Linked DNA regions of Homo sapiens: all the other regions are reported to be linked to region 5. Evidence: microRNA targets listed by miRTarBase, many of them from high-throughput screens and not tested one by one. Region 5 holds a microRNA gene; each other region holds the end of a gene's coding sequence. Distances are from middle to middle.

Region 1 (5,194 bases), not on the chromosome of region 5:
AAGTAGATGGTAGAAATTTTCACTTTGCAAATAAACTGGTGTTGAATTTTCAAAACTGTACTTTGAAATGTGGTTCTAATCATATCCATTTTTGGTTTTTTTCTAGAGATGTGAAGATGTTTGGCTTGGTATGCCATCACCTATTCCTGCGAAATACATTGACTACTGGACCTTTTTGAAGGACGCGTTTGGCTTAGAGGAGGAATAACCATGCCAGTTTTGGTCAATTCTCTATGATTTACTTCTCTCATTTTGCCACATTTACTTTAGTAGATATAATTTCATTAAAAACAAAAAAGAAACAAGGTTTATATTAAATGGAAATCCATAAACCACAATTAATCCTATTTTGTCATGTTAGTTTTACAGAACATCATGTTACATTGCCGACGTACTGTTACTATTTAAAATGCCATCTTAAAACATGTTGAATATTTTTATTATATGTATGGTTTATTAATACCAAAAAATCTTCTGATAATTTTTGATCCAACATAATTTGATTCATTACTATATGAACAGAAAATGACTTTTGAAGGTTATACATGACAATACAAAATCAAATTATATCACAGCAATAAGTTGTGATTCTATTAAACATTTTTGAAACCTTTTTGACACGTTTATTACTTACATAATTAAGTTTTGTAGCAACCCACCTCATCAAAATAATTCTTAAACCTCTCTAGAGTAAATATATTTATCTTTTGAACTTAGTAAAGCTATGGGAAGAAAAAGAACCTCCAACACACACACACACACACACACACACGCACGTGCACACACACTGGAAACATATGCAGTATTTATATTTGTAATGCCCTTTTTTCTATCTAAAGTCAGCTTGTTAGCTTAGGAATATATGCATGTGTGTATAATTATAGTTTGACCAAAACTTTATTATGTCTAAAATATTTACAAATGTGAAAGCTGAAGATTTTGAGATTTTTGTTTTTTTTTTGGTTTGTTTTACACACACATCCCACGCGCCCCACCCTAGAGGTTTAAATATTCAGAAACTACAACATTTTTCCCCTGCATTTTTCTAGTTCTATTTTTATTTTTCTTCAGCAGAACTCTTGTCATGTAGTGTACATTTGATTAAAACCCATAGCCATGTACCTCTGGGAATTCAGTGTAAGAAGTCTATCCCAGTCTATGCCATTGTTCAGTGTTGGATGCTATGTATCATAAATCCATTTGCCTGGTGTTCTGGGAGACAATGGAGGTCTCAAAAAGGAGCTGCACCATTTACCTTTCAGGGACTACCCTGAGAAAAAGAAGAGCTGATGACATCTCAAGGGACCCTTCGGACTCATTATTCTTTCACTCCACATTTGCAGCAGTGTCTTGCTGGCTTCTTGGCACTCAAATGTACCAATTTATTCTCCACAACAATGGCCCTTTCATTTTTAAAAAATTGGAGTTAATCAATAAACGATTTCTATATGTAAGCCTAGGATAATTCCACATGTGCTATTGTTAGAATAGACGCTCCTCCCAACCCTTTCAGGACTTAACACTAAACTAGTATACTCAATTTATATACTAAAACTATCTACCATAAATCCTAAATTTGACTACTTGATTTTTGTCCCAGGTTTTTTTTAAGGCAACTGACAGTGCCAAGCCATTTTGTCACTTTAAGATTTTTCATTCCCCAGAGAGCAGGCTTTTAGAAGGATGACACTTTCCTGGAACTTTTCAAGCTGACACATTCGTCACTTACCTATTCAACTCTTCAGTCAGTTGTCTTTCCTTCAAGAGTTTAAATACGTAGATAATTTAGCCCTTGTAGAGGCTCATAATGTAGTTCATTTGAGAAGTGGGGGGAGAAAAAGAAAGGAAGCAAACCAATGACAATGCTCCTGAGTTGTGGGGTGACAACTGCTTATTCTATTGCATAGATGTGTGTTACTGCCCTGGTTGTTTCTGGTTCAAGCCCACAATTAGCAATGAAATGGCCATTATAGGATTCATGCCGATAAACATGATACGTTGCAGCCATACAGACACTTTAAATAATCATTCTTTTTATAACTAAGCCATATACTGGACAAGATTTATAATTTAGAGATAATATCCCCATTAGTAAAGTTTATGACCCAATAAACAGCTCCCACTAGTTAATAAATGCCAAAGCCATAAAAACAAAGACTATTAATGTAATAGAATTTCTGTACCTCCCTCTTTTGCTGGTGGTCTCAAGACACTGAAGGGAAATGCTATCTTAGGAAAAACATTTATTCTCGTTATGTAAATATCAGTGAATTGTCTTACAATCCATCTGGAAGTCTCCCAGCCCCCCTTGGTCCCAGGTGGTCCTGAAATGCTGATGCATTCTGCTTAGGTTTCAAGCAGTAGATAACTCTGGCTTTCAGCACAAATAAATCCCGAGACTAAAATTTTGGGGGGAGGAGGACTGGAATTTCTGCCTCTTCTCTTCCCTCTGCAAAAGAGAAATCCCAACTATTGTCATTGTTCCAGGGTAATAATTTGAAAGAAGTTTCACAACCTTTCCATATACTTATATTTTCAGCTGCTAACATGATCTCATTTTGATGAAAAAGCAAGTGCCACCTTTGGATGTCTGGGTGAGTTGAAGGTTAATATAGGCAAACCTTTTGTCCTAAGAACTAATTGTTATTTAGTATTCTTGGAACTGTGGGAATGATTGATAAAGCCATTTGAAAACCCAAATCAAATCATGTCTTTTCATACAAAACTGATTAAAAGCTGTTGAAGTTCACATTAAGTGGTTTGCTGAGGCACTGTTGTGAGGTATGATGTCGCCAGCAGAGGATTAATTTGCAGTACTTATTTGCCTTTTATTACCTTTTTTACCTAACCACTTGAAAAGTAATGTGGGTAAGTCTGTTGGTTTACTTTAGCTTAAGTTTACTAAAATGGTTAAAATTTTAGACAACAGAGGGGAGATTTGTAACTTTCAAGCATTATAATAGTTTAAACATTTTGCCTACTTTATTTCCTGTATTGCCTTTGGTTCAATTACTGACAAATATACTATTCTTGTTATTTTTTTTTTTTTAAACGCTAGAGTATTTGAAGTTTGATTATTTGGAGTCATAGAGCTTCCAGGCTTTATGGACCCCTCAGTCATGAGTTTAGAATATTTAAATTGCCCTTCCTTCTTTCAAATAGGGCATTATTGATGAGTAAAATGAAATCTCAAATCAATACAAAACACAAAACTCTTGCCTTTCCAACTGGAATTTATCTTGAGTTGGGGTTGCTTCCTAGCCTTTTCTATTTATTTCTTCTTTCTCCTTTCCCTTCCACCACACATTATGATTTTGCTATAAGTTTAGTAGTTGGAGTCATAACGAAATAGGGCCTTCCACAAAATATTTATGATATTGAATAATGCAGAATCCATTATAATAAAGTGCCATGCTCTCAATTACATGTACATTCATTTTAGTTATGAGTATAGATCCCTGAATTTTCAATACCCTAAAAAACGGTCTGTAAATGACCTTTCAGACAAACAGCTTCCCAGTGATGGTAGAAACATATACACGAGTGATGTGTCTCTGCTCTAATGTTTGTTTGGGCAAAGTCTGAATTGCTTCAAGTTGAAGGCAGGTTAAGACCTTTTCAAAAATGAGTGTTTTCAAGTTGACTGAGCATCTTCAGAGACACCGTGCTTTTCAATTCCCAAGAGAATGTAATGTGTAAAAATGGAAAGCCCACTGAGGCAAGATCAATGAGGCTGTTTAGAAAATAATAAACCTGGAGCGATAATGGAGCAAACATTCATTATTACAAAGGGTAGGGCTGACTGTGCAATTAGTTTAAGAGAATTTTGTAACTCACCTCCTCCGCTTATTCTACCAGGTTATACATATTGGTTTAAATATACATTTTCATTCAAGGTCAATTAAGTTCCCTAAAACTAAGAGTTCTGAGACATCTTTGTCAACAGAGTGGCTAGAATATGCATCTTCTTTGTAATTTGTTCCTGGTCCCCAGTAAAATTCCTTGCAAGGGGACTTTCAAGCCCATTATGTGTCTGGTGTGTGGTACACACAGGAGCCCGGGGTCAGCACTGCTGCTCAGAAGCAACTTGGTAAAAGCTAAAAAAATGTGGCCGATGAAAAACTCCACAGTGGCTCTGCAAGCAGAGAATTAATGACTCGCTGGAATCAGTAGGAGCCTTTACTTCTAAATACTCATTAGTTAAAGCAGTGAGGCCTGATGTTATGCAAGTTAGAGAGGGAAAGGGGGGACTGCCCCTCCCCATTGTCTATTTTGAACAGAATATGCACATTTAACTCAAAGTGCTGAATGATTCAAATACATCAAACCCACTATTCATCAGTCTCCTAGCTTCCTGAGCACCACTTTGCATCTGTGTAAAGCCAACAATAGAGGAAAGCTTGTTATGACCCCACTATAATATTAAAATCCAGAGGAGCTGATAGCTTGGTGAAAACATAAAAATGCATTCTCCTTTAGAAATACTTCCACCAAAGTCATCTTTGTGTTTCTTTTTTCCTACTTTGCCTATACAACAAGAACCTCTGACTGAAATAGGAACTTGATAACATTACTTTTGCCTGCTTTTTTCTCCTGTGCTACCACTGGTCATTATTGCTGTGAGGCCACCCGTTGAATAAAGAACAGGAGCTGAACGGCCATTTCAGGCGCCTGCGAATACCCCCAGTTTTAACTATGACTGGAGCTAGGAGAGTGAGAAGGGAAGTGGCAAAAGATGACCATTTTAGAGGGGAGTCGGGACAAAAATAGGGACCACCTTGTGTGTGACTCATGTTGAAGAGTTTGCACTTCATCCCAAGGGAATGAGAAGTTTCTGAAATATTTTAATCTGGGGAATGGAAAGATCATGTCTGTATTTAAAAATCTCTGGCTGCTTTGTGTGTGTGAACTCTAAGAGTGTGTTTGGCGGCAAGAAGACTGATTAGGAGACTGTTGCCAGAGAAGTGATGGGTAGTTTGGATTAATGTAATGTTGGTGAGAAGTGGAGGGATTCACGATGCATTTGGGATGTTGGAGATGAGGGAGAAGAAATCAAAATTATGACTGGGTCATTTTCACAGCTGGATAGATGGTGTTGCCTTTCATTGTGCTGGGATACATGAGAGAAAAATCAAGTGAAGGGAGAATATCAAAAATTCTGCCTTGGGCATGCTGAATTAGGGTGCTTGCGGAA
Region 2 (5,131 bases), not on the chromosome of region 5:
CCACAGTTTTCCATTCTGACTTTTCTCCTGATCTCCAGACCCATGGATGCAGCTACCTTATAGATAACTCAGTGGAACTGCAGGAGTGGGGCAGTTTCCTGAAAGTTACTGAATTGCTTGAAGAATGACTCAGAGGAGTGTGAAAGTGTGGTATGGAAGGGGGAGGTTTGTGTGCTGATGCCCCTTAGACTGGGAATCAATGGTCATCGTCTTTTAAAGAAACATTCCTAAATATAGAACTTCGGCTGGGCTCGGTGGCTCATGCCTGTAATCCCAGCACTTTGGGAGGCTGAGGCGGGCGGATTACAAGGTCAGGAGATCGAGGCCATTCTGGCCAACATGGTGAAACCCCATCTCTCCTAAAATACAAAAAAAAAAAAAAATTAACTGGGCGTGGTGGCATGCACCTGCAGCCCCAGCTACTCGGGAGGCTGAGGCAGGGGAATCGCTTGAACCTGGGAGGCAGAGGTTGCAGTGAGCCGAGATCATGCCATTGCACTCCAGTCCAGCCTGGCAACAGAGTAAGACTCCATCTAAATATATATATATATATATATAACATATATAATATATATATATAATATATAATATATATAATATATATATATAATATATATAATATATATATAATATATATAATATATATATATAATATATATATATGTAATCTTCTCAAACCTACTGAAAAATTTGGCAACTCCAAGCCCCCAGCGCTTAGCAGTTTTTGACAATAAAACTATACCATAAAAAAAGGGTCTTTGCTATCCACAGGTCTACTGTAATGTTTGCTTTTTCTTTCTTTCTTTTTTTTGGTTTCACTTTGCTTCACATTGGGTGTGGTCTTTGGTCTAGTACATGAGCATAGGCTCTCATGTGTACCTGGGTTGCCAGGCATTCTCCTTGGTCTCAGAAGTTTCAACCATTTAAGATGGCACCCTGTCCACTTGCACCACTGAATGCAGACAGGTGTGCTGGGGACCATGTAGAGACCCACCTTAGTGCTTCTTACATGATGATCTTCTCCAGAGAGCAGATTCTGCTGGGGACTTTCTGTGGACAATCTCACTGAATCTTTATAAACTTTTTTTTTTTTTTTTTGAGATGCAGTCTTGCTTCTGTCGCCCAGGCTGGAGTGCACAGGCACCATCTTGGCTTACTGCAACCTCCCCCTCCTGGGTACAAGTGATTCTGCTGCCTTAGCCTCCCACGTAGCTGAGATTACAGGCACACACCACCATGCTGGGCTAATTTTTGTGTTTTTAGTAGAGACAGCGTTTTGCTGTGTTGGCCAGGCTAGTCTCGAACTCCTGACCTCAAGTGATCCACCTGCCTCAGCCTCCCAAACTGCTGGGATTACAGGCGTGAGCCACCATGCCTGGCCCAGCATGTCTTCTTTTTATTCCCACTTTACAGATGAAGACACAGAGGACTAGAGGAGGTGAAATGACTTGCCTGTACTTATAAAGCTGGTTAATAGTGGAGCCTAGATTAAGACTGTATCTGTCTGACTCGAGATTTAACTACTACACTACAATGAGCATTTCTGGTTTTGTTTTGTTTTAGTGGGGATGTGATTCACAGAGAAAAATAACATAAAAATCATACTTAGTTCCATGTTTCTGTGTCTCAAAGTACTTCAGACTACTTTAAAAGTCTAAAGCAGTGCAGTTCCCAACACAGTGGCATTGGGCCCTGTGAAAATAGTTGAATGTAGCACAGAATGTATTCTCTCCTGAAGCCCAAAAGTTTACATGTCATTTCCGTTTAAGTGGGGGCACCCCTGTTCTGACAGCTTGCTAGAGCACACTGTTTGCGTTTTGTGGTCATTTGCTAACCATCAAATAACAGAGGCAGTAATATTTTATCCTTGTTTATTTTCTCTTTATCTAGAAATAATTATTTGGTATTTCAAACATTCCCACCCTCCCCCTTAGATAGAAGGCAGAAGTGACATGATTATAAAAATGGAACTAAGTTAGATAATTTATGATCAGACTATTACAGGTACATCAGAAATGTACTCGAGTCTTTTTCATTTATAGGAAAATGCTGAAAATGTTCAATTGAAGTTTGGAACAAACATATATTATTTTGCAAATTATCATGAAATGTATAATAAAAACATATTATCTGTTTTTAGCTACAGCATAATTCTCAGTCATTTTTTACTCCATGAGTGCATTTTTATCATCCAGATATTTTTGACCTAATGAGGATCCTTTCAGTGTAGCAAATTTTTGCCTCAGCCAACACACAGAATTATTTTCTGGGCTATTGAGTTATAAGCAGCTGTATTTATTCATTCATTTATTCCTTCATGCACCAAATAAAGGGCCAATTCAATGCTAGGTCCTGTGGTAGACGCTGAAGTTATCATGGTGAATGGGACAAGGTCTTGGTCCTCAAGAAGCTCACAGCATAGTAGGGAAAACTTCAACCATGATAAGTGCTGTGAAGCACTTGCTAAGTGCAGGGTGCAGTGAGGGAGAGAAATGGGTCTTGCAAGAAGAGAAAACAGCATTCCAGGGCCCTAAGGTAGGAAAGCATTTGTAACCTTGCTTAGAGGAACTGAGGGCTAGAACTTAAGAGACCGAGAGAGGTGGCAGCAGGAGATGAAATTGATTATTTTGGTCTTTATTCCAAGGTTCATAAGAAGCAGGGGACTGGCTGTGCATGGAGAATTGATGGAAGGGAGCAAGAGTGGAGGCAGGGAATCTAGGAGGCTGTTGTACTATTCCAGAAGAGAGATGGTGACAGTTGGGACTAGGATAGAAATAGTAGAGATAGAAAGAAGTAGATTAAGGACTACTTAAGAGATAGGGTTGATGAGCATAGGCTGGAGGGATTGAACATGGGGGTGATGAGAGTGAAGTCAAGCCAGGTTTCTGACTTGAAAAACTGGGTAGATAAAGACACCATTCATTGGACTGGGAAACATTGAACACAGATCCCATTGTGTGGGGGGAAAAGTTAAGAGTTCGGTTGGAATGTACTGGGTTTGAGGAACTAGGCCCACCCTTTGGAGATGCAGGCAAATTCTAGGAGACAGTTGAGAACAAAAGGCATGGCATTAGTGGCTTGAAGATGCTGCTAAGTTAAAACCATGAGCCCAGGGAGATAACCAACAGTGAGCATGTAGGACTTACCCGGTAAAGATGAACACACCACTCTGGGTTTCTTACATGAAAAATTCCTCTGTTGGAGGTGACAAGAAATGGCTCCATTGACTTCAGTGGAAGACTGGGGGGCCAATACTTCCCCTCAGGTTTTCTCAGCTCCATTTCCTCTTGCCTAAGTGGAACCACCTAGACAGCTATTAATAAGCTATGCCACTGCTCCTTATTTAAGGACCCTCTCCAGCCTCACTTGGCTGTGATTAATAAAAAAAAGTTCTTTCAATCTCCTGCAACTTTTTCAGAAGAAGCTGGAAATAAAGACCTAGATTGCTTTTCACTGAATAGGCTAGCACATCATCGATCAAAGGCTGTCACAGACTTCCAGAAAGTGTGCTGCCACCAAGATATTTTATAATGTAAGTAGCTTGAGAACAAAGTTTATGAAAACATCACAAAGGTTGGGAAAATTCCCTCCAAATGCTTCCTCTTTCCCCAACCTGGCTGGGAGCTTTAGGTACTCAAACAACAACGATAATGTTAAGAGGTCTTTATTATTCAAAAAATAAATAACAAGATAATTACAAGTTCACTCTGGAAACAATGGAGACTGCAGGTAGATACAATAGATTTCCTTTAAATACAGTCATTTCGTAATGAGGAGTGGGCAGGCTCAGGGCTGCACTCCCTACTCCTCACCCTCATCTATAGTGGTAGAGATAGGGACAGGGTGGAAAGAAGAGAACTGACTAGCAACGGCCTGACTCTGTGTGTGTGTGTGTGTGTGTGTGTGTGTGTGTGTGTGTGTGTGTGTGTGTGTTAGAAAGGGGGATTGAGAAGAGAGACTGGGGGAGGGAAGAGACTGACAAAGGGAAACAGAGAGATTGAGAAAGAGAGATTGGAAGAAAGAGGTTGAGAGAGAGAGACTGAAAGAGAGAGATGGAGAGAGAGAGATTGAAAGAGAATGAATAACTGTCCGAGAGGGTGGCGGGGGGGGGGGGGGGGTTTCGGTTCTCCACTGTGTTAGACGTTCTAGAGCCTGGCCCCCTCCAACAAGGCCATAGGAACCCAGAGTCAACCATAACTGAATGTGAGCTGAGGCTCCCCATTTCCCTTCTGCATCTTCACTGATAAATCAAATGCATTATCCATGGAAAGACACTGCACGCAAAGAAACAAAACTGAACTTGGCAAGTTATCTGCTGTTTACTCAGAATTCAACCTGTGCATAATGGCCTTGTCTTTTCATAGGACTCTCTGGATGTCTGCATCAGTGGGGTTGCTGCTTCAGATATATAAGCTCTTATGGAGCAGGGCCCGTTTTGGTTTCATGTGACCTGTAATTCACTTATTACAGTTCTACATGCCTTGGAGTGTATAATAAATAGTTCTCCATAAGGAGGATCCTAGGGTTATAAATAGGCAGTTAACAGGGGGTGGGCTTAACCGCTGTGCTGTATTATGAAGACTCCCAGCGTCAGCTCCACCACAGCCTGCAAGGTGACACTGTTCAGAGTTTGAGTAAGCCAAAGGACGTGAAGCCAGTGCCATGGCTCACTTGGCTTGGATCAGTCACATTGACAAACACCGAAGCACCTGGTTGCAATTCAAATACTCCTCCCAAGTGAATGGATTGTTGCCCGCAAGGTTTGGCGGAACTGTGGGTATTTGCAGCTCTGAGTAAGATTCTCTCGAATCTACCGGGGGACTTTAGGCAGAGGCTGGCTATAAATGGAGCTTGACTCGAAGCTTCCCGATTGGAACAGAAGGTGACTTGGGCATAGATATAATAGAGTCCTTGTCTTTTAACGGTCAGCTGTTTCCCATTTTCCAGGGTTACCAAGTTGTTGCTCATGGTGTAGTATCCTTTTTCAGCCCACTGTAACACTGTTACAAAGAAAGGGAAAGTTTGTGGTGAGGTGAAGCAGAGCATGGTTCACATTCTGACAAAAAATATAGTTTAATGTTGGATATTGGCTTTGTATAGGGATGGATTCTCAAGGCCCCTTCCATGGGCT
Region 3 (5,343 bases), not on the chromosome of region 5:
CCATTTCAGAAGATAAGGAAGGGACTCTGAGAGGTAAGTTTTTAAATGAAAATCAATAATCAGCTCCATCAGCTTCAGCTGTAACACAGATAGCTTTTTTTTTTTTTAAGGTACAGAAGTAAAAGGGTGGTTTTAAGGAGGAGCAGCCCATGAATGTGAGCCGGGTGGGCGCATTTCTTTTTTCTGACTGAACCAATAGATGTTAGAGCCAGAGTGGCATTTGTTTGCCAACCACAGGGGCTAGCGTGGTGAATGCGAGAGTATCTTTATGCGGTCATTGGTTTTAGAAATCTCCAACCCAACTCCTCCACTTACTGCTGTTCAAAGAATAGCTTCCAAATCAAGATTTAAAAGAGTTATTCTTCCAGTAATTTAAGGTAATGTCCTGGATGTTCATCATAGGTACTCTGGAAGGGCTGAGCAGGCTGGGCCTTAGTATGGGGCAGGATGCATGGGAGGCTAAGCCTGGTGGACTTCTAGGAGGCAGCATGTCTCTGAACTGTTAGCTTTAATTTGTCTCATGTGAGATGAGAATTGAGAGGAGGGTTTAGCAATATTGGCAGTGTTTGTAAACGTTTGTGATGTTATGTGACATTGCCAGTTGACATTGGCCAACTGACTCATTGACCAGTCTAGGTATCCACGAACTTGTCTCCTGAGCCACCTACGATTTCTATACAACCCACGTGTATTAAGGTTTGTCAGCTGTAAGCCAATGGAGTATACAATTATGGAATTCTTTCTTTTCATCAAATGAAGTTTTAACTACAATTTGTCAAGGTAAACTGTGGCAATGGAATCCTGATGAAGGACTGGACATGAATAAAGCACCATTTGCTTTAATTTGGATACAACTTAAAGAGGAATAGCCTGAGCTTGATGAGTTTACTTTATAATCTTTTTCAGATCCCATCAACATGTCTCTGAGAGTGTTCTGTCTACTATGTGTTATTACAACAAAACATAGAAATCATTTAGGGAGACATTTTCCTCTACGAGTGCGGTTGTTGCTCAATTAGATCAGCCAGAAAAAAACCGATTTGTCATATTCAAAATACTAAATATTGATATACACAGTGTTAATTTATTATGTTATATAAAAGCATTGATTTGCAAGGTTTCAAAATTAAAAACAAAACTGAGCTTCACCACAATTTGAGAGCCACTGCTCTAATGGGAATTCCCAGGCAGGGATGGAAAAGGGTGTGTGTGTGTGTGTGTGTGTGTGTAACTGTGTAGCCAAACATAAAGGGAAGAGATAAAACAGCTCCCTTTCAGCAATAAAACCACAATTGTGTTGGATAATTATATATTGCACAGTCTCCATCGTAAACAAAAACAATTTGTTTCCATTTTGGTTGAAATGAAAACTAACTATTTCTCTTTTCCAGGCTGGCTTTGCTGCCTGGTCAGTGAGCTCAGGCCACTAATGAATGGCTGGCATCCCAGCGTCTACCCACAAAAGACCCACTCTGACCTCCCAGAGCGAAACCCCACTGTTTAAAGGGCACAGAGGGCAAAGCCCTGGTGGCTTCCCTCCTTCCCCCCCTCCATCTCACACCCGTCTTCCTGTAAACCTTTTTGCTTGTAGAGAACCTGCCTAGAAGGTGAGCATGGCCCAAAGTATGCCCCGACCACCACAGAAAGGCATTGCACCCAGCGCAGCTCTGGGGAAAATCGGAGCCTCCACCCAATAGCCCGAAGCCCGCCCTTTCCTTTGGAATCCACTAGTCCTAGGCCTGGCCGTTGAACTTTGGTTTTAATTTGCTCGTGCCACAGGGTGACTGACATGGGTTTTTTCCTTCTTGCTAGAATACAATTGCAAAGCGAGTCTTCATGTCCATGATGAGGAGGCCCTCTATGGAACTCTGTGTCATTTGGAAGATCCCCAGTGGTGATGGGTAAGAATAACAGCTGGCAGTGGGCCTTCCAACAGGTCTTTGGGGAAGGCAGAATTTAGAGCTGGGGGCCTCTGATCATGCTAGTCCCTCACACACCATTTCTCAGCGTGCCCTGAAGGGCAGAGTCAGTAAATGTGACCCCAAAGTCTGGAAGAAGGCATTCCCGTTTCTCTGGTTTAGAAAGGGGCTGCAGGCCAAGATAAGAGACCATTTGGAATGTGTCAGTTTGTGACTTTCACAACGTCCGATTAATTTGTCTTCTTTAATGTGTAAACTGCCAACATGACTTCCTGATTCTCTCATCTTTCTCGATTTCCCTTTTCATGGGATTTCTGAAAAGGGGTGACCCGTTGGTTTGTTGAGCACTCGTGGGTCACAGTTATGGGTAGAAACCAGGTCCCTTTAAGTGAAAGCTCACTGGCTTCACCTGGCCTGTCCCCCTGCCTGTATTTTGCTGGAAAAGCCTCCTTGGGATCACCACTGATGAGCGTATCATGCCACCATAGGATTTGATGCCTATCACTTGGTCTTCAATCCATCAAAAGAAAGGTGCTGGTCTCTGGTCCTGCCTGGAGTCAATGCAGACCTCAGCATTTGCTCTACTTTAAATTTTCTCTGAAGGTGAAGACAATGCTGCATCAAGCCAACCTACAAGTCCCTGCCCAGGGGAAGGTGTATTGCAATACGAGGCGCCCTAAAACCCATCCATAACCTTGGTGGATTCCACAAAATGAAAAATACTATAAGCTGCCGTTACACACGCTCTCCAATGCAAATTCCCTTCCCTAAAGATGCAGCTTATTTTCTTTTTATTGTATTTAATTCCGAAAGAATGGTCACACTTCTTTGCTAGGTAGGCAAGATGTTCCGGAGGACACACTAGAGAAAGCACCACTCCCCACCCTAACCCACATCCCCAACACACTCACCTGCCCACACTCACACAATCACATACACATGCCCACACTTATATACACATGCTGACACCCGTGCACTCATGTGCACACACTCATTCACACTCATACATATTCACACTCAGGCATACTCATACTCCTCATGAGCACACCACACTCACCTGTGCACACTCACCTGTGCACACTCACACACATGCAGACACTCATGGGCACACTCACACATGCTCACATGCTCATTTGCACCCAGACACAGGCATACACATCATTTGTATGCACACACGCACACTTTTTAACGTGGTAACGATTTACAGGAAAGAACAGCTGGAACTCGTGCTGGGATAACCAGGTACAAGTGCTCTCTGCAGAGAATAAGTGCACACAGGTTGGTGTCTTCTGACCGAGAGCCCTCCTGAAGGGAGGTCTGTACCTCCTCCCTCATCTCATTTTACACAAGGCGACAGGTCAGAGGCCAGGGTGGGACGAGAGCGAGGGAGCACTGTCTCTGGCAGCAGCACTTGCCACTCCACAATGTGGAGACCAGAACGGCACCCCAGAGAGCACAGGGGAAATGGCTCATCTTTAAAACAATGGCAGAAGAAATCCAGCCAAGGTCACTTTTCCTGTGTGAGCATGTTTAAGGCCAGAGAGTGGCTACTTCTCTGCCTCCTGCAGCTCCCTCAGTGTGGCTTGGAGGAGTTGGCGAAGCTTCCAGAACACGCTGGAGGCTGCTCTCCGGGTGTTCCCACTGGGGACCCCAGGGTCTGCACATTCCTGCACCGCCTCCTGTAACTGCAGCTGAAGCTGGAAAGAGACCGCAGAGCTCTTGAGAGGCGCGGAAAACCAATGGCGAAATATTTTGTCACAGATGACCTGAGGGAAAGAAGGGTGGACAGTTAATTTAGGGCAGCAAATCCTCCTAAAAGCTTCCCAAGCCCAGGATTGGTTCTGAAACAGATTTCAGCTTCTCTCCCACCCCCACCCCCGTCCTTCAGGGAGCACACTCCAGAGACCATCCGATTTGGAAACATGCCTTCACTTCTGCCCCTTAAACCCTTCAGCACCATGAACAAAAGACGCCTCCGAGAGGAGAAGCCAACATCTGTGTGAGGCAGAAACTTCCCTTTCCAGCCCCCTAGCAGATGGACAAAGTTCTGGGTGACACTGTAAAAGGACTGGACACATTTCTAGGGAGGAAGGGAAGCAGAAGTCACAGACAGTCACTGCTGCAGAAGGAGTTGGTCCTTTGCAGGCCTGAGGGAGGCCGGCTTTGCTGTTACCACCTGGAGATGAGGTTTCTTATCCACAAGCTGGTCCTAGTGACAACAATGACCATCTGACCGGGCTGTCCAGAGGGCCAAATGGTGCGTGAGGGAGAAGTGTGTGAACTTGTATGGCTGCCTGTATAGCACTTTAAGGCTCATGAAACAAAGGCATATTTGACAGAAAAGACTGCAGGCATAAGGCTCTTTGAAGGCTCTGTGAAATGTGTTATTCTAGGAGCAGAGGTAAAAATTAGACACTCTCTTTAATTCTAATCGGGTATGAAATTCAGTGATGCTGAGGATCACTAGAAATTTCTCCCTGTAAACATGTTGTTTGTTTTATAGCTCCTACAGCTTCCCCCACGCTGGGAGAAATGACCTGCGAGCTGCGTGATGCATCATGCTTTATTTCTCTACATCACACTTTATATCAGACTCAATTAACAAATGCCTCCATTGTAAAGAGCTACTGCTTCATAGAGGACAAAAACCTTCAACTTCCATTTCACAATCCCTGCAAAAGCAAGGATTCTTTTCAAAACCTAATTATGGTTTTTTTAAAATAGAGAATACATTTTCATGTGCAAAATTTAAAATGTTCTTAAGGCTAGACCGTGATCTCAGGCTCCACCTCACCCCGATGCTCAGCTCCCGCTCTGAGAATGAGACATTCTTTGACATACACACTTCCTTTTCCTTTCATTTTACACACAGGTAATATATTGTACACACTGTTCTCAAATTTCCACCCCCATTTATATGAGGGAGATCCCTCCAAATTGATTTCTTTTTCTTTTTGAGACAAGGTCTCACTCTGTGACCCAGGCTGGAGTGCAGTGGTGCCATCTTGGCTCACTGCAACTTTGACTTCCTTGGTTCAAGCGATCCTCCTGCCTCAGCCTCCTGAGTAGCTGGGACTACAAGGGCATAGCACCATGCCTGGCTAGTTTTTGTATATTTTGTAGAGACAGGGTTTTGCCATGTTGCCAACACTGTTCTTGAACTCCAGGGCTCAAGCGATTCACCTGCCTTGGCCTCCCAAAGTGCTGGGACTACAGGCATGAGCCACCACGCCCAGCCATCCCTCCAAATCAGTTCTTATGAGGATATCCCATGTGATTTAATGGCTACTTCTAAAATGTGTGCGTGTGTCGTAAGTTATTTAACCAGTTCCCTATTGATGGACTTGAGGTTGCATAATAACTTTTGCATTATGAATAATACTGCAATAAATGTCTTGCAGATATATGCTATTGCATTTTGTGC
Region 4 (5,343 bases), not on the chromosome of region 5:
ATTCAATGATAAGTCCTGCTTAGTATTTGCCAGAAGTGGACGGTCCACAAGGAAAGAAAGGCATGCATACCTTGTTGTTTTCAAATAGTAGTAGTATCCTTTCTATGGTACGGAGATGACAAATAGTATGCTTAAAAAAAAAAAAAAACAGGCAAAAGGCAGAGTAAAATTATCTAACAGGACCGACGTCTTCAGTCACATGCCTCCTGCCCCTTAAGAAACGGATTTCATGCCAAGGAATAGTCCCGTGTTTTCAAGTACTTTGGTGATTAATTCTAGAATAATAGATAAGGATGAAAGTATATTCATTTAGAAATTTGCAAATGCATCCTTGGTAATCATGTCTGTGTGTTTTCCTATTTTGGTAAGCCAGGAGCATTTGACCAAATTGTGGTTATATTTCTTACATTCAGGACTTTTAGATATTATGGTTGAAAATTTTCTGAAGAGAAAACAGCTTTTTTGTTCTATTGCCACTGTTTTTTTTCTCCTTCAAATCATGGGATGCCACTTTAAAAAAAAATCAAGGAATTACACTTGCTTTTAGGGTAAATATAGGTGTTGTGCTGCATGGTGTAGTACTTAGTAAAAGAACATTTTATATAAACCTTCACTGTCACATGCCAGGCACTGTTCTATGCATTTTATACACAGTAATGGGTTTAATCCTTACAGTGCTCTGCAGAAACTGTTATGATTTTACTGATGAGCAACTGAGGCACATAGATGATAACTGACTAGTACGTGGCAAGCCTAGGATTTGAACCCAGGTAGTCTGAAGGGCCATGCTCTTAGCCGCTATGCTACATTGCTTCTGGTTCACTGTGTTGGATATGTGCCTTTAGTTTGAGTTCAGTTGATTATTAGGGCACAAACCCACTTTTAAGTGAAAATTACAAACTCTAGAGATGATGCATTTTAGGACAAAATAAAGAAGCAAACTTGGTTGCTGATTCATTTCAATTGATTCCATGTTAAAGATTTCAGTTGGCATCACTCTTATTTATGGAATCTAAAATCCTATGTAAACTTCTGGAAGACATTTTCCCTTTGATGCATTAACACTTTGAGTTTCAAGACTTAAAAATCAGGAGCAAAAAAGTTACATTTGGTGCTTCAACATTTTCTTATTTTACTTTCTAATTGTGTCAACATTTCCAGAAACTATTAGAAGGGTTATAGAAATGTAAGTATGCATTTATATACTTTATAAAATTGATTGAAGGCCGGTTGCGGTGGCTCACACCTGTAATCCCAGCACTTTGGGAGGCCGAGGTGGGCAGATCACGAGGTCAGGACGAGACCATCCTGGCTAACACAGTGAAACCCTGTCTCTACTAAAAATACAAAAAATTAGCTGGGCGTGGTGGCGGGCGCCTGTAGTCCCAGCTACTTGGGAGGCTGAGGGAGGCTGAGGCAGGAGAATGGCGTGAACCCGGGAGGCGGAGCTTGCAGTGAGCCGAGATAGCGCCACTGCACTCCGGCCTGGGCGACACGGCAAGATTCTGTCTCAAAAAAAAAAAAAAAAAATTGATTGAAAATCTACAGTGAAAACATTTTTGGAAAGCAAATTCAACAGCGAACACTTGACCATACCATTTGAGAAATGTTCTTTGTGTATTGACTGTTTTAGAAGAAAACAGCTTGATTATGGGCCAAAATGTTTATAATTTGACTACTGATTCAGACCAGTTAGCTCTTTAGATGACAGTTCTGTATGGATCAATTGGCTTCACTCTGTTTTATGGTTATAGTCTGCAACTACAGAATGGCCGATTAATCTTGGGAAGGGTAAGACAGGGTCAAAAGAAAGTCAGAAATCTATAAACCTTGCTATAGATTAAGCTTAGAATGCAAGTTCTGTTGACAAAAGTTTCTAGCATCAGCTGAGTATAATTTGGCTTCCGTCATTAGGAATGAGATAAATCCTAACTGTCCAACAGAAATATGGACTTGTTTCTAAAGGAGTTAAATATGTTTGACCTGAAAGTTTAAACCTATTACATTAAATGATTAAAGGGACCTTTTTTGGCAGTCTGATCAATGGGTTGCAAATGCTCTGCAGATGGGAGGTGACGATAGGAAGGAATTATGCAACATCATCCTTCCTCTAGTTTAGCAGGAAATATTTCTGGTAGGAAGACATACATGAAAATAGGTCTGCTGTGTAATGTCATTTTAGAACCAAACTTTGTTGGGTTAAGATGCTTTTACAGAAAACATCCTTTTAAAAACTTGGTACTGTATGTTTTAGTTAAGATAACACTTTTTGTGTCCTTGTTTGCTGAAAACGTTCAAGTACATAAAGAATTGTATTATTAAATTACCCACTGACAACAATTTCTTTAAAGTTTATATATTTGTGGGAAGGTCACAATTTACATACTTCCAAAAAACAAAATACCTTGGTTTATACATTGTCAAAACAGTCTGTAAAAATCAAAACAAATTGAAACAAAGGCAGAGATACTAGGCGAAAGAGGCAGAGACTTCCTATATACACTACAACTTCCTATTCAAATTTCAAAGTGCTTGTTTCAAGAGAACACATTTCTCACCTACTACCTTTAAACTAACATGCTTCTGGAAATGTGGTTTTCCTCCAAGGACAGGGATTCAATTTAGCTCAGCTCTGGCTCATTAGTGTGAATAAACAGAAGGGCTTTGCTTCAGGGAGGTAGACAGGAATCACAACAAGGCTTGACTTTAATGAGACCACATTACCACAGAGGTTCTCTTTTCCAGATGACTTCCAACATTGTCAGTGACAGTCAACTGTTGGGAGCAGATCTTGGGACAAACCTTTTAGGGAAAATGAACTAAATCAGCATGAGCCACTGTCAAGTTTAAGGTGACAGCTGAAGGCTGGGTGTGGTGGCTCATGCCTGTAACCCCAGCACTTTGGGAGGCTGAAGCAGGAGCATCGCTTGAGCCCAGGAGTTTGAAACTAGCTTGGGCAACATAGCAAGACCTCATCTCTACGAAAAAATTAAAGACTTAGCCAGGTGTGCACATCTGTAGTACCAGTTACTGGGCAGGCTGAGGCGGGAGGAAGGCTTGAGCCCAGTAGTTCGGGGCTGCAGTGAGCCATGATTGTGCCACTGCACTCCAGCCTAGCAACAGAGTGAGACCTTGTCTCTAATAATAATAAAAGGGGCAGCTGGAGTCCACCAAGAAGTATTGTCCATCAGGGATCTTTTCAGCAGGCACTAAACTGCTGGGGAAAGAGTTTCATCTTGAGCCTTTACAACAACAAACAACTTTTTTCTGTGAATCTGACTGATTGCCTAGGTAGAAATGTCCTTTTCGGTGGCCTCAGTGATACATTGATACTGTTTATGGTCATTTACAGTAAAGAAAATATGTCCTGCAAAGAGACAGACCACCAGAATATTTAGTTCTATGGCAAATACCTTATTTGAGGAGCTCATGAGCTTCATGACCAGTCACTTCTGGAGAGTGCAGGAGTTCAGAGTGTCCCAGCCCCTTTTGCTCTTCAGTGTTTCAAAATACATGTGTGGAGAAGCTGTTTTCTTGCAAAGAAGTTATGATCTCTGGATTGTCATGCCATCATTGGCACACAACTCCCCTCTGGAAGAGGAGCTGTTTGCCAGAAATATTTTCTCAGTGTGATTTATGGCATTCCACCTGGCTCTCTCCATCAGTCTCTACTAGCAGAGCCACTCCCAAATGACCCAGAGCCATCCTTTCCACTCCAATGGAGAGGCTTCCAGAACATGCTGCAGTTGGGTCCTTGGCATTGACTTGCAACTGAAGCTCCTCAGGAGTTGGTAGGAGGAAGTAGAGGGACTGGTGCCTGTAGCTCCTGGCTTTCCTCTCTGACCAACGCATAGCGCCTGGCTTTTCTAGGGTCGGGCTCTGGCGTCTCCTCTGCCCATCTCCCCACACGGCGCACACCTTTGGCCACCTTGGGTGCGTTCCTGCAAGGATTGTGGTCATAGATGACCAGCTTCAGACTTGACAGGTGCGCCAGGCTGGGGAAGTAACGGATGCTGTTCCAGTCCACATCAATCACCTCCAGGAAGGGCATGTGAAGCAGCACAGTGGGAAAGTCAGTTAGCCGGTTGCCCGAGAGCCAGATGGTCCTCAGCTCCTGGAGGCGCCGGAGCTGGCCTGGCAGCAAACGCAGGGCGTTGGAGCCGGCATGCAGAGTCTTAAGGAGACTCAGCTCACAGACCACATCCGGCAGCTGGGTGAGGCAGTTGGCCTCGATCCACAGGGTCCTGAGGTTCTGGAGCAGGCTCAGCTCACTGGGGAGGTCGCAGAGTTTGTTGTTGCCCAGGTAGAGGATGCAGAGCTGTTTCAAGGTGCACACCACCTGGGGCAGAGCCTTGAAGTTGTTGAAATCCAAGGCCAGAATCTGCAGGTTCTGTAGCTGCCCCAGCTCCGGAGGCAGGCTATTGAGGTGGTTGTCGCTCAGGTAGAGCTTGACCAGCTCCCTGAAGGAGCACACGTGCAGGGGGAAGCGGCGTAACTGGCTCCCACTCAGATCCACCATCTTGTCCAGCGGCATCTCACGGAGGTCCCTGACCACATAGTTCTGGCAACGGTCAGCAGGGATGAAGGCCACGAGGGCCCTGATGGTGTTCCCCATGCGGAGGCTGGGGGCATGGCGAGCCCCAGAGGACAGACTCACTGAGCGGGGCTGGCTCAGCTGACTGCTCTGGGGCCTATCCTACCCTCCCATTATAACTTGGGGATTGCATGACAAAAGCCAGTCACTTTGACAGAGAAAAGTGCTCCTGATAGCAACTTGAGTGTCCGGCGACAGCGCAACAGTCCGGCAGGGGCTGGGAGGCCATGTCTGACTCACATGCTTGCCTTTAATCACCTAAGCCCCAATCCCCTTTATCAACCTTTTTTCATTTCAAGCTGAAAATAGCTTTGCTGTTTTTTTCCCTAATGATAAAATATTAACACATTACATAAAGGTGTAAAAGAAGAAAATGAAAAACACCCATAGTTCTATTACCCAGAGATAAATACTGTACACATTTGCATGTGTCCTCTAGTCTTTTCGCTATAAGTAATCATTTGTTTTTTAAAATTGCACTTTAGGAGCTTTTTTTTTTTTTTTTTTTGACAGGGTCTCATTCTGTCACACAGGCGGGAGTGCAGTGGTGCAATCTTGGCTCACTACAGCTTCTACCTCCCTGGCTCCAGCAATCCTCACACCTCAGCCTCCTGAGTAGCTGGGACTACAGGTGCACACCACCGTGCCCAGCTAATTTTTGTATTTTTTGTAGAGATGAGGTTTCGCCATGTTGCCCAGGCTGGTCTTGAACTCCTGGGCTCAAGAGATCTGCCCGCCCTGGCCTCTCA
Region 5 (5,343 bases):
TGAGGAAAGCTAATTTGTACCAGAGTCTCTAAACAGCTGTGAATTGGTAGCACTGAGGGTCCCGGCCTAAATGAATTGTTGAAAGTTTTTAGGAAGTAATTTGGGCCAGGCACCATGGCTCATGTCTGTAATCCCAATGTTTTGGGAGGCTGAGGCAGGAGGATCACTTGAGGCTAGGAGTTTGAGACCAGCCTGGGCAACATAGCAAGACCACCATCTCTACAAAAACATTTGTTTTTAAGTTAGTTGGGCATAGTGGCACATGCCTGTAGTCACAGCTACTCAGGAAGCTGAAGCAGGAGGATGGCTTGAGCCCTGGAGGTCGTGGCTGCAGTGAGCTGTGATCAAGCCCCTACTCCAGCCTGGGAGACAGAGAGAGACCCTGTCTCAAAAACAAGAGGCAATTTCACCTCCACATCACCTCATCCAATTTGTGCAGTCAGACAGTTGCCCCTCCCCCTACTCACAGACTATTAGATATTTATTCTCTGTAGAGAAAATACAGGTCTTCTGACTAGGGGACAGTAGGCATAGGTGGAAGTGGGTGCTATCCCAGAAATAGGGAGACTAGGTAAGTAGATTCTCACTGGATTCTGAGACCTGCAGTCCTCTCCGTCTTCCTTAGCTCAGAATGCTGTCAACCTAGCCAGGCAATTATCCTCCAGGCAAGAGACTAAAAAAAGTCCTGTGGGGATCTGACCAGCCCAAGAAGATCTTACAGATACTGATTATGAGTTTCCCGTGAAACAGTTCGGCCAGCTCAGCCCAGGGTGAAGTTCACTGTTAACGACCCACATACTCAGTTTCCTCTTGCTCTTATGAGCACGTGATCATGGATTCGAGCCACGTGAGGAAAATTCTAAGTGAAAGATCCAGACCAAGACAAACCAATGTAAAAAACAATGTGGACAAAACAGAGCAGCTCTTTTAAAAACTTACCAGTACTAGCTCAAGAGACACGAAGAGATATTTCACCCTTGGAACAGCAATAGAATGACACAAAAATGAGACTTTTGAAGAACGAGGAGCTTTAAACATTTAGAACCATTCTAGAAAATGTTTAAAGCTTACTTAATAAATTGAAAGATAAAATTGAAGAACTCTCCCAAAAAGTAGAGCAAAAAAAAAAAAAAAAAAAGAACAAATTAAAAAATTAGAAGACTAGTCCAGGAGGTCCAATATCTAAATAATAGGAGATTCAGAAAAAGAGAACAGAAAAAAATGGAAAGGAAAAAATCATTCGTTAATATTTTGGTAAGTAATTTGAACAGTTTCCCAGACAAGAATGATGTAAGCTTTTAGACTGACGCATGGTAGATAAAAACAGACATAAATCAAGGCATGTCACTGGGAAACTTTAGAACTGCTGGGATAAAGAAAGGATCTGAGAAGATTAAAGGATACAAAGGATCAAATCAGAATGTCATCAGGCTTCTCAACAGTAATGGCAGAGGCTAGAAGACAAGACAGCAAGGCCTTCAAACATTTGAAGAAAAATAACTACTATCTTAGAATTCTTTTTTTTTGTTGTTTGTTTGTTTGTTGAGACAGAGTCTCGCTCTGTTGCCCAGGCTGGAGTGCAGTGGTGAGATCTCGGCTCACTGCAAGCTCCGCCTCCTGGGTTCACGCCATTCTCTTGCCTCAGCCTCCCAAGTAGTTGGGCCACAGGCGCCTGCCACCACGCCCGGCTAATTTTTTGTATTTTTAGTAGAGACGGGGTTTCACCGAGTTAGCCAGGATGGTCTCGATCTCCTGACCTCGTGATCTGCCCACCTCGGCCTCCCAAAGTGCTGGGATTACAGGTGTGAGCCACCCCACCCAGCCAGAATTCTATACATAGTCAAAATATCAATTAAGGGCTGGGTGTGTTAGCTTACACCTGTAATCCTAGCACTTTGGGAGGCCAATGTGGGCGGATCACCTGACGTCAGGAGTTCGAGACCAGCCTGACCAACATGGTGAAACCCTGTCTCTACTAAAAATACAAACAAATTAGCCGGGCTTGGTGGCGGGCGCCTGTAGTACCAGCTACTTGGGAGGCTGAGGCACAAGAATCACTTGAACCTGGGCGGCGGAGGTTGTAGTAAGCCAAGATCACGCCATTGCACTCCAGCCTGGGCGACACGGCGAGACTCTATCTCAAAAAAAAAAAAAAAAAAAATCAATTGAGTATGAGGATTGAATAAAGACATCTTAGAAAGGCAATGTTCCAGATATTGTATTTCCTATGCACCTTTATTCCTTCATAGTAGGAAGTTGCTAAAAGATATGCTTCACCAAGATAAAGGAGTAAATCAGGAAAGAAGACGTACAGGAAACAGGAGATCCAACATGAGAGAAGTGAAGGGAATTCCCAGGAAGATGGAGAAGTCCCAGGTTGACAGTTTGGCCCCAGTTGTTGAGAACGGTCTAGACTAGGGGTCCCCAACTCCTGGGCTGTGGACTGGTACTGGTCGGTGGCCTGTTAGGAACCGGGCCACACAGCAGGAGATAGATGACAGGTGAGTGAGCATTACTGCCCGAGCTCAGCCTCCTGTCGAATCACTGGTGGCATTAGATTCTCACAGGGGCATGAACCCTACTCTGAACTGCACATGCGAGTGGTCTAGGTTGCATGCTCCTATGAGAATCTAATGCCTGATGATCTAGGGTGGACCAGTTTCATTCCAAAACCATCCCCCATTGTCTGTGGAAAAATTGTCTTCCATGAAACCGGTCCCTGGTGCCAAAAAGGTTGGGGACTGCCGATCTAGACTGAAGTATGTTGGAGAATCTGGGAGAGATTTTGTGAAGATTGGATTGATAAGATATGTGATGCTCTGACTGTCTTAAGAGGATGTTTGTATAATTAAGTGAGTTTGTGTTTGAATTAGTGATAAGCATCAATAATAATAATAAAATTTTAATCCAGGGAAGCAAAGAGTGGCTAGGATAGGAAAAGTCATTATAGTTTGATGCATGGCTTAGTTTAGTATTTTCATGGTTGTAATCATATAAATGCTCAACAAAGAGCTAACAAAAATTATGATATAACCAGATTAGAAAGATAAGCAGATGAGAAGGGTGTGTGTGTTTTTCCTGAGAATAAGAGAAGGAAGGACAGCCAAATTCTTCATTTGCAAAGGGATAAGCCAATAGATGAATGCATAAAGCTGAAAAATCAAGGAAAGCAATATAAGCATTTTATTTAGAGATGTAGAGGTTACTGACAATAGCATTAGCTAAGATAATTGAAAGTGGTGTTTCTGGAGAAGAGGCAAGGAGCAACTACTATTTGTGTTAATGAACATTGTAGAATTGTTTGGCTCTATAAAATTCATGCTTGTATTACTTTAATAAAAGTTAAAGTAAAAATATAAATAAACAGCAAAAAGCTTGCATAGCACGCCACTCTAAACTAATAAATGAAACTAAGTGATGAACATTTTATAGCATCTGATTTCAATCAGCATCATTTGAAGCGCTTTGAGTGCAGAGTCAGCTCAGCATCTATCCCGGAAGAAAAGCTCGGCCCTGGTGCTGACAGACACAGAGAGGAAATGGAAAGCAGCACCCCGCGGAGTGGCAGAGGGCATGGCTGGATAGGAGCATCTGTCTGCGTTCATCATTAGACGCCAGATGTAACCTGGAGTTTCAGCATTAAATGTTTATATGAAATGATGCCGAGGTGGAAATTTTGCCTTATAAAGTAGCTTATCTTGGGAACAGAGAGTACTATAAAAAGATGAATAAACGATTAAATCAAGGTCCAGACATGAGCTGATTTTTCTTAAAAGCAGTATCTTTACAACTTCAGAGTTTGAACTCTCTGATGTGGAACCAAGCCAAAAATAGCACAAAGAAAATATTGACCATGAGAGTGGTGACCTGGCAAGCTCAACACTGTCCACCTGTTAATCACTTGTCCCTGTTGATTTCAGCTTATGACTGCATACTTTCTAGCCTAATCCTACTGTTGGTATACTCAGGTGCAATAGAAGTTAAAGAGTGAATAAATCAACCTACTAAAAGAGATTCATGGGCACGGGGTGGGTGGAGAACAAACATATTACATTCCAAAATTCCTATGGCTCAAAGGATCAACTACTAAACAAAGCATGTACACCTGAGCCACTGTGGGAGCCAGCATGAAACACTTCCAAGGAATGAATTCAAGGAATGCAATTAATTCCCAAGCTCTTTTTCCCCAAAACTCTATTTTTGTTTCAAGCTAGCATTCCCATACTCTGTTCAGACTTTAATTCCATACTGTAATCTGTCCAGCTTTGGTAACCACCCAGCTGTAATTTGAACTGGCTGGTCAACAAACCAAACACCATCAAAGATTCTCATTTGTCTTGCTAAAGTCAAAAACACTGAAGATATTTAAATGTAAATATAATCTTTTACTGATCACACAATCTCAGGGAACTTTTCCCCCTTTGCATAGTGTCACAATTGGGGTTCAAATTGTGAAGACCAAATGTGTAACTTATACAAAAGTAATCACAATAGTTTGTTGCAATAGAAATGAGCTGTTCTGTGCATTGCTGACAAGCCACTTTTTAAAGTTTACTTTTAAATGTATGTATAGTAAAATTCACTCTTTTTGGTGCACAGTTCTTCAAGTTTTAACACATACATAGATTCAAGTAATTACCACCACAGAGAGGATACAGGACAGCTCTATCATCCTATACACCCTCGTGCTGCCCCACCTGGAATCCCTGGGAACCACTGATCCATCCTCTGTCCCTAGTCCGACCTTTTCCAGAGTGTCATATAAATGAAGTAATTTGGGATGTAGCCTCTTGTGCCTAGCTTCTTTCACTTAGCATAATATATTTGAGATTCACCCATATTATCGTATCATATTGATACAGCTCTGATGAATGGAGGAATACCAGGTTCTTCCTCTCGAGTTGAATTGGAAAAAACGACACGGACACACCTGGTGTGATTTTAAGGAGCAGAGAGTTTAATAGGCAAGAAAGATGGGAGAAGTCAGAAGGAAGAAGCTCCTCCATACAGAGACAGAGGGAGGGGGGCTCCAAAGCTGAAAGAGGAGACCCCACATGCCAGGATACCAGCCAGCTATATGAAGAGGCTGGAGGAGATGGTGTTTGATTTGCACAGGGCTCAGGGGATTGGTTTGACCAGGTAAGTCATTCATGTAGCCCTCGAAAAAAACTGACCCTCCCACCCTAGTCTTTTAATATGCAAATGCAGGGTGCCATGATGTTCTACATACTTGGGGATATGTGGGGGCAGCCATGTTGCCAGGAACGTGTGGGGCAAGGGCAAGAGGACAATGATGGGAATCGCCATGTTGGGTGGATCCAGTTTCTAATGGCTGGCGTTTGC
Region 6 (5,216 bases), 100 Mb from region 5:
TCCAAATAGGTGAATTTTATATTTTTATTTCTTTTTGGTTTTCAAACAGGGATCTATTTGTGATGACTATATGGCAACTCTTTGCTGTCCTCATTGTACTCTTTGCCAAATCAAGAGAGATATCAACAGAAGGAGAGCCATGCGTACTTTCTAAAAACTGATGGTGAGTCAATGCAAACATGCCTCTCAGAACATGTGGGTTTTTAGAAATATCACTAAAGACTTTGTCAATTATTTGTTGTTTTGAATAATTCAGCAATAACTATTTCTTAAGTCTCCTGAAGTGCTATCATAATATCAAGATTGGCTTTAATTTTCTTCTTATGAAGAAGATAGCTCTATACTTTGAAACCATATTTTAGTAAATAAAGGAATGGTGAATTTTCTAAACTTCTCAGAATTCTGGTGATCTATTAAGGAAGCACTTACCACTTGTAAAATACCAGAGTATGGTGAGATACAAAAGAATTAGAAAACATGTTCCCTGCTAAGACAAACAAGTTGACAAAAGGAATTCGTAAATAATTATAAAATAGAAGAGTAAAGAAAATAACATTCTGTATGATATTTGGATTGATTGTGGCATAAAGCATCTATCATAGCAAGGTGAGGTTAAATAGAAAACTCCTGTTGGAGAAGCTGAACTTTGAAAGAGGTGAACATAGAATTTAGAATGTTTGGAAATGTTATATAGAATTAACCATCTGAAATTCAATCAAGTCATTTTCAACTAATTTTTCTCAGGACTATCTATTGAGGATGTAGTTAAGTAGAAATCAACATGACTTACTCCATCCCCTGTAGAATATATATTAAGTATGGGAAGAACACAATTTTTCTACTCTTTGTAATATCCAGTTTCCTTCCTGAAGTGATAAGGACTCTGTATGGGTTAATAAAAATAACTCTTGGGAGATACGTAAAAAAATGTTCATTTACTTAGCAAGTAATGTATTAAGGATCTAGGATCAAGTATATATTATCTTAGCAACTAATGTATCAATGTATCAATATCTAAGACTAGGTAAGATACTGTTAGGTATTGTAGTAGGGTTGGGGAGCAAGATAAATAAGCTAGTCCCTCTGTCATTATAGAATTTATACGAAAAAGGGGGATTAGACAAACCCCTAACTAAAATGCAGAATTCAATTAATGCCTATAGACAAAGCGGTATTTTATGTTCAGAGGAGGAAAAGATCACATCTTGTAAGATGTATAGGTGAAAGTTTCTTGAAAGCAGTGATTTTTAATTCTAAAGGGGAAGTGCGTATTAGTTCTCAACAAGAAACAGATGGCACTCAAACTGTGATAGTTCAAAGATTTAATGAAGACTAATTATAAAGGTGTGGGTGGGGCATTGTAGGGAGATGACAAGGGATGGCATAATAACCTGCCTGGCAACAGCCCCAGGGAGGAGAAGAGGGAGCAGTGACCTGAATCCTTAAGGAGAGAGCTGTGTGAAGAGGCCTGCCCTGAAAGAAACAGTATCCTCTCAAGAGAGGGTTGTGAGCAGCCCGAGGCAACCCATAGAACTGAAAAAGTACCCTGACCTCACTTTCGGATGTCCTTCTGGTTTTCCCATTGGCTGAACCCACCAGAAAGGCAGAGGGCAGCAAAGTGTCACGGTAGTCCGCAGGTCGCTTCCCAGGGCACACAGCAGGATGGTCAAGGGAGTAAGTAAATCAGATAGGGGCAAACAGAGGATCACTGACTCAAGATGTGGTTTTAATTAATAGAAATGGAGGCTGAGTGCAGTGGCTCACACCTGTGATCCCAGCACTTTGGGAGGCCAAGGCAAGAGGACTGCTTGAACCCAGGAGTTCAAGACCAGCCTGGGGAACATGTTGAAACCCTGTCTCTTGAAAAAATACAAAAATTAGCTAGGTGTGGTGGTGCACGCCTGTAGTCCCAGATACTTGGGAGGCTGAGGTGGGAGGATCACTTGAGCCTGGGAGGTAGAAGCTGCAGTGAGCTATGATCACACCACTGCACTCCAGCCCTGTCTCAAAAAAAAAAAAAAAAAAAAAAAGGAAAAGAAAAAGAAAAGAAATGAAATGTTGCTTCTAATCAGCAATATTAATGAAACTAGAGAGGCAAAAACAGAGAAAATATCTTTATGAGCTTAGGTCCAACTTGGCTAGAACATATGGCATAAGTAGAAAAATAACGAAAAATAAAAGATTTTAAAGGCCTTAGCATGCGATGTCTGAATACTAAGCTAATGACTTGGTAGGAATTGGGAAATTATTGCAGGCTTGAAGTAAATGAATAGAACTACTCTTTAGAAATATGAATCTAAGGCTGGGCATGGTGGCTCATGCCTATAATCCCAACACTTTGGGAGACCGAGGTGGGAGGATCACTTGAGCTCAGGAGTTCAGCACCAGCGACCAGCCTGGGCAACATAGCAAGACCTCATCTCTACTAAAAAGTAAAAATAAAAATAAATAAAATTTTAAAATAATAAATATTAATCTAATAATAGTATATAGTACAGATTGTACAGGATGAGGCCAGAAGCAAAGATGGGGAGTTAGATCATTCCAACACTGTTTACTTAAATAAATACATGAAACAATTTGGATCAAATATCTACCCACACATTCATAGTAATGAGTCCTGATAGCTCAAGTGTTTTCTTTAACCTCAGGGAAAATATCTCACTGAATCTTTAGGTGGGTTTGAAGTAAAATACCTTGGCGGTCCTGACTCCTCCTCATCAACTTGGACCCTACATCACTCACTGGCAATAAAACTTTAGACAAACAGATATCGAAATGGGGAGCTAAACAAGAGAGAAAGAGCAAGGAATAACAACATGATTTACGTTAAAATAGATTGAGATGAAGGACATAGGAATCCACTGGAAAAGCTCCCCATAGTCCAAACTGGGGCACTTTGAGGAACAAAATAAGGTCGTGTTAGATTATAACCCAAAGTATAAAATATCTATGAGTTTGTGCTGACATAAATGACTGAATAAAATTTGAAAATTGAAAAAAAGTATGTATGTTGAAAGCAGGGAAAACTGGGAATTTTGAGAGCAAAGAAGTGGCAGGAGAATTTCTGTATGGGAGAAGAGACACATCTCCCATATGGAACTCCAAATATTTAGGTAGATACTCCTTCCTCAAGGAGAGCGGCATGATTCCCCACCCTGAAGTGGGGGTTTGCATAGTGACTTCCTTCCAAAAAGTACAGCATGAAAAGTACAGCATGCAAGTGCACTCTCTATACTGTATGGAGTAACTCCACAATGGAGAAACCTGACACAATGACCTGAGCCAGGTAATCAACGTCACCATCATTGGTAATAAGTCATATTGATAGTTTGCACCCCTGATTTGATGTGATGAGAATGGCACTTTACCTTTGTGGTCTTCTCCCCAAAACCTCTTAACTCCAGTCTAACCATGAGAAAAACATCAGACAAACCTAAACTGAGGCACATTCCACAAAATACCTGACTACTCCTCCTGAAAACTGTCAGGGTCATCAAAAACAAGGAAAGGCTGAGAAACAGTCACAGTTTAGAGGAGCCTAAGAGAAGATGACAATTAAATGTAATGTGGTATGCTGGATGAGATGCTGGAACAGAAAATTAAAGTAGGTAAAAACTGAGTAATCTGAAGGTAGTATGGGCTTTGATTAGTAGTAATGCATCAGTATGGGTTCATTAGTTTTGACAAACCTCCCATGGTAATGTAAGATGTTAACCAACAGGAAAATTGGGTGCCAGATACATGAGAGCTCGCTGTACTATCTTTGCAACTTTTCCGTCAATCAAAAATGATTCTGCAATTAAAAGTTTATTAAAAATTATAAAAGTACCTTAAGAAAATTCAAAACTCTTGTGTGTCCTTTATAGGTGAAAAGCTCTTACCGAAGCAACAAAATTCAGCAGACACCTCTTCAGCTTGAGTTCTTCACCATCTTTTGCAACTGAAATATGATGGATATGCTTAAGTACAACTGATGGCATGAAAAAAATCAAATTTTTGATTTATTATAAATGAATGTTGTCCCTGAACTTAGCTAAATGGTGCAACTTAGTTTCTCCTTGCTTTCATATTATCGAATTCGAATTTCCTGGCTTATAAACTTTTTAAATTACATTTGAAATATAAACCAAATGAAATATTTTACTGATAAGATTCTTCATGCTTCTTTGCTCTCCTTAAAATGTCTTTTTCACTAGTTAGTTCCAAGGGTCAGTCTCATAATTTTGTTCTTATACTTTGATTTCCTTTTTCTTTTTTTTTTTTTTTAATAGAGTTGGGGGATCTTTCTTTCTTTTTTTTTTTTTTTTTTTGAGATAGAGTCTCGCTCTGTTGCCCAGGCTGGAGTGCAGTGGCGTGATCTCAGCTCACTGCAACCTCCACCTCCTGGATACAAGCGATTCTGCTGCCTCAGTCTCCCGAGTAGCTGGGATTACAGGTTCCCGCCACCATGCCCAGCTAATTTTTGTATTTTTAGTAGAGACGGGGTTTCACCATCTTGGTCAGGCTGGTCTCGAACTCCTGACCTCGTGATCCACCTGCCTCGGCATCACAAAATGCTGGGATTACAGGCATGAGCCACCGCGTCCAGCCTAGAGTTGGGGGTCTTTCTATGTTGCCCAGGCTGGTCTTGAACTCCGGGCCTCTAGCAAGCCTCTCATCTCAGCCTCCCAAGGTGCTGGAATTACAGGTGTGAGCCACTGCACCATACTTTGGTTTCTTAGCAGGAGATTTTGGTTCACAGTAACCCAGCTCTCTTTCATCTAAGAACTTTAGATGAGAAAAAAAAAAAATAGACTACAGATAACTATTCCCAGGCAGTTATGGTACATTTAGCCAACACTTTTGCCTCTTCTCATGTTATCTGTTAGTATTAATGCTGACAAAGCAAGATTTTTTGCGAAACAACACACCAAGCCTTGCTTTTACACTGCATTCCTCAGGAGGTTGTTTATTGTGTTGTTGATTTTCTTTCCCTTTTGAATATGAGATATCAGAGTAAGAAAACTCTGATCAGAGTTTTCTGAAAACTCTTATCAGAGTAAGAAAAATTTGATCAATGATCAAATTCAGTGACTCAATTTTGGTTAAATTTTATCCATCAATAGATGGATAAAAGTGTAAAATGATTTTTTTCACATTTCTTGTCCCATTTGATCCGTCAGCATCATTTTGCCCTGATGAAAATCTCACTTCCTAATTTCCCCTAGTTCTCC

The links. The annotated mature microRNA hsa-miR-4455 reads AGGGUGUGUGUGUUUUU and lies in region 5 at 3,061-3,077, shown strand. An mRNA with a match to its seed (bases 2 to 7 or 8) in the 3' UTR can be bound and repressed. Matches are read on the target gene's strand: a 7mer-m8 pairs with bases 2 to 8, a 7mer-A1 pairs with bases 2 to 7 and ends in A, and an 8mer does both.
Region 1: the mRNA of EFHC2 is a reported target of hsa-miR-4455. The part of its 3' UTR that is shown has no 7-base or 8-base seed match.
Region 2: the mRNA of CD40LG is a reported target of hsa-miR-4455. The part of its 3' UTR that is shown has no 7-base or 8-base seed match.
Region 3: miRTarBase lists DIPK1C as a target of hsa-miR-4455. The part of its 3' UTR that is shown has no 7-base or 8-base seed match.
Region 4: miRTarBase lists LRRC10 as a target of hsa-miR-4455. Seed matches in the 3' UTR shown: 8mer at 2,867-2,874.
Region 6: miRTarBase lists PLAC8 as a target of hsa-miR-4455. The part of its 3' UTR that is shown has no 7-base or 8-base seed match.

The regions. Positions count from the first base shown.
Region 1 is chrX:44,143,809-44,149,002 of GRCh38, reverse strand. EFHC2 (EF-hand domain containing 2) reads left to right here. Exons shown (of 15, transcript NM_025184.4): 15 at 107-1,131. The coding sequence ends at 208. Among named protein-coding and RNA genes, the nearest start is that of NDP, 170 kb to the right of the region's middle.
Region 2 is chrX:136,658,908-136,664,038 of GRCh38, reverse strand. It overlaps CD40LG (CD40 ligand), which reads right to left. Exons shown (of 5, transcript NM_000074.3): 5 at 3,649-5,000. The coding sequence ends at 4,624. Among named protein-coding and RNA genes, the nearest start is that of CD40LG, 13 kb to the right of the region's middle.
Region 3 is chr18:74,433,035-74,438,377 of GRCh38, forward strand. It overlaps DIPK1C (divergent protein kinase domain 1C), which reads right to left. Exons shown (of 4, transcript NM_001044369.3): 4 at 1,741-3,685. The coding sequence ends at 3,467. Among named protein-coding and RNA genes, the nearest start is that of DIPK1C, 22 kb to the right of the region's middle.
Region 4 is chr12:69,606,224-69,611,566 of GRCh38, forward strand. LRRC10 (leucine rich repeat containing 10) reads right to left here and starts at 4,684. Exons shown (of 1, transcript NM_201550.4): 1 at 2,341-4,684. The coding sequence starts at 4,615. The coding sequence ends at 3,782.
Region 5 is chr4:184,936,155-184,941,497 of GRCh38, reverse strand. MIR4455 (microRNA 4455) reads left to right here and starts at 3,058; the gene lies at 3,058-3,115. RefSeq lists a silencer at 569-863.
Region 6 is chr4:83,089,625-83,094,840 of GRCh38, reverse strand. PLAC8 (placenta associated 8) reads left to right here. Exons shown (of 5, transcript NM_016619.3): 4 at 50-163; 5 at 3,870-4,793. The coding sequence ends at 154. Among named protein-coding and RNA genes, the nearest start is that of PLAC8, 22 kb to the left of the region's middle.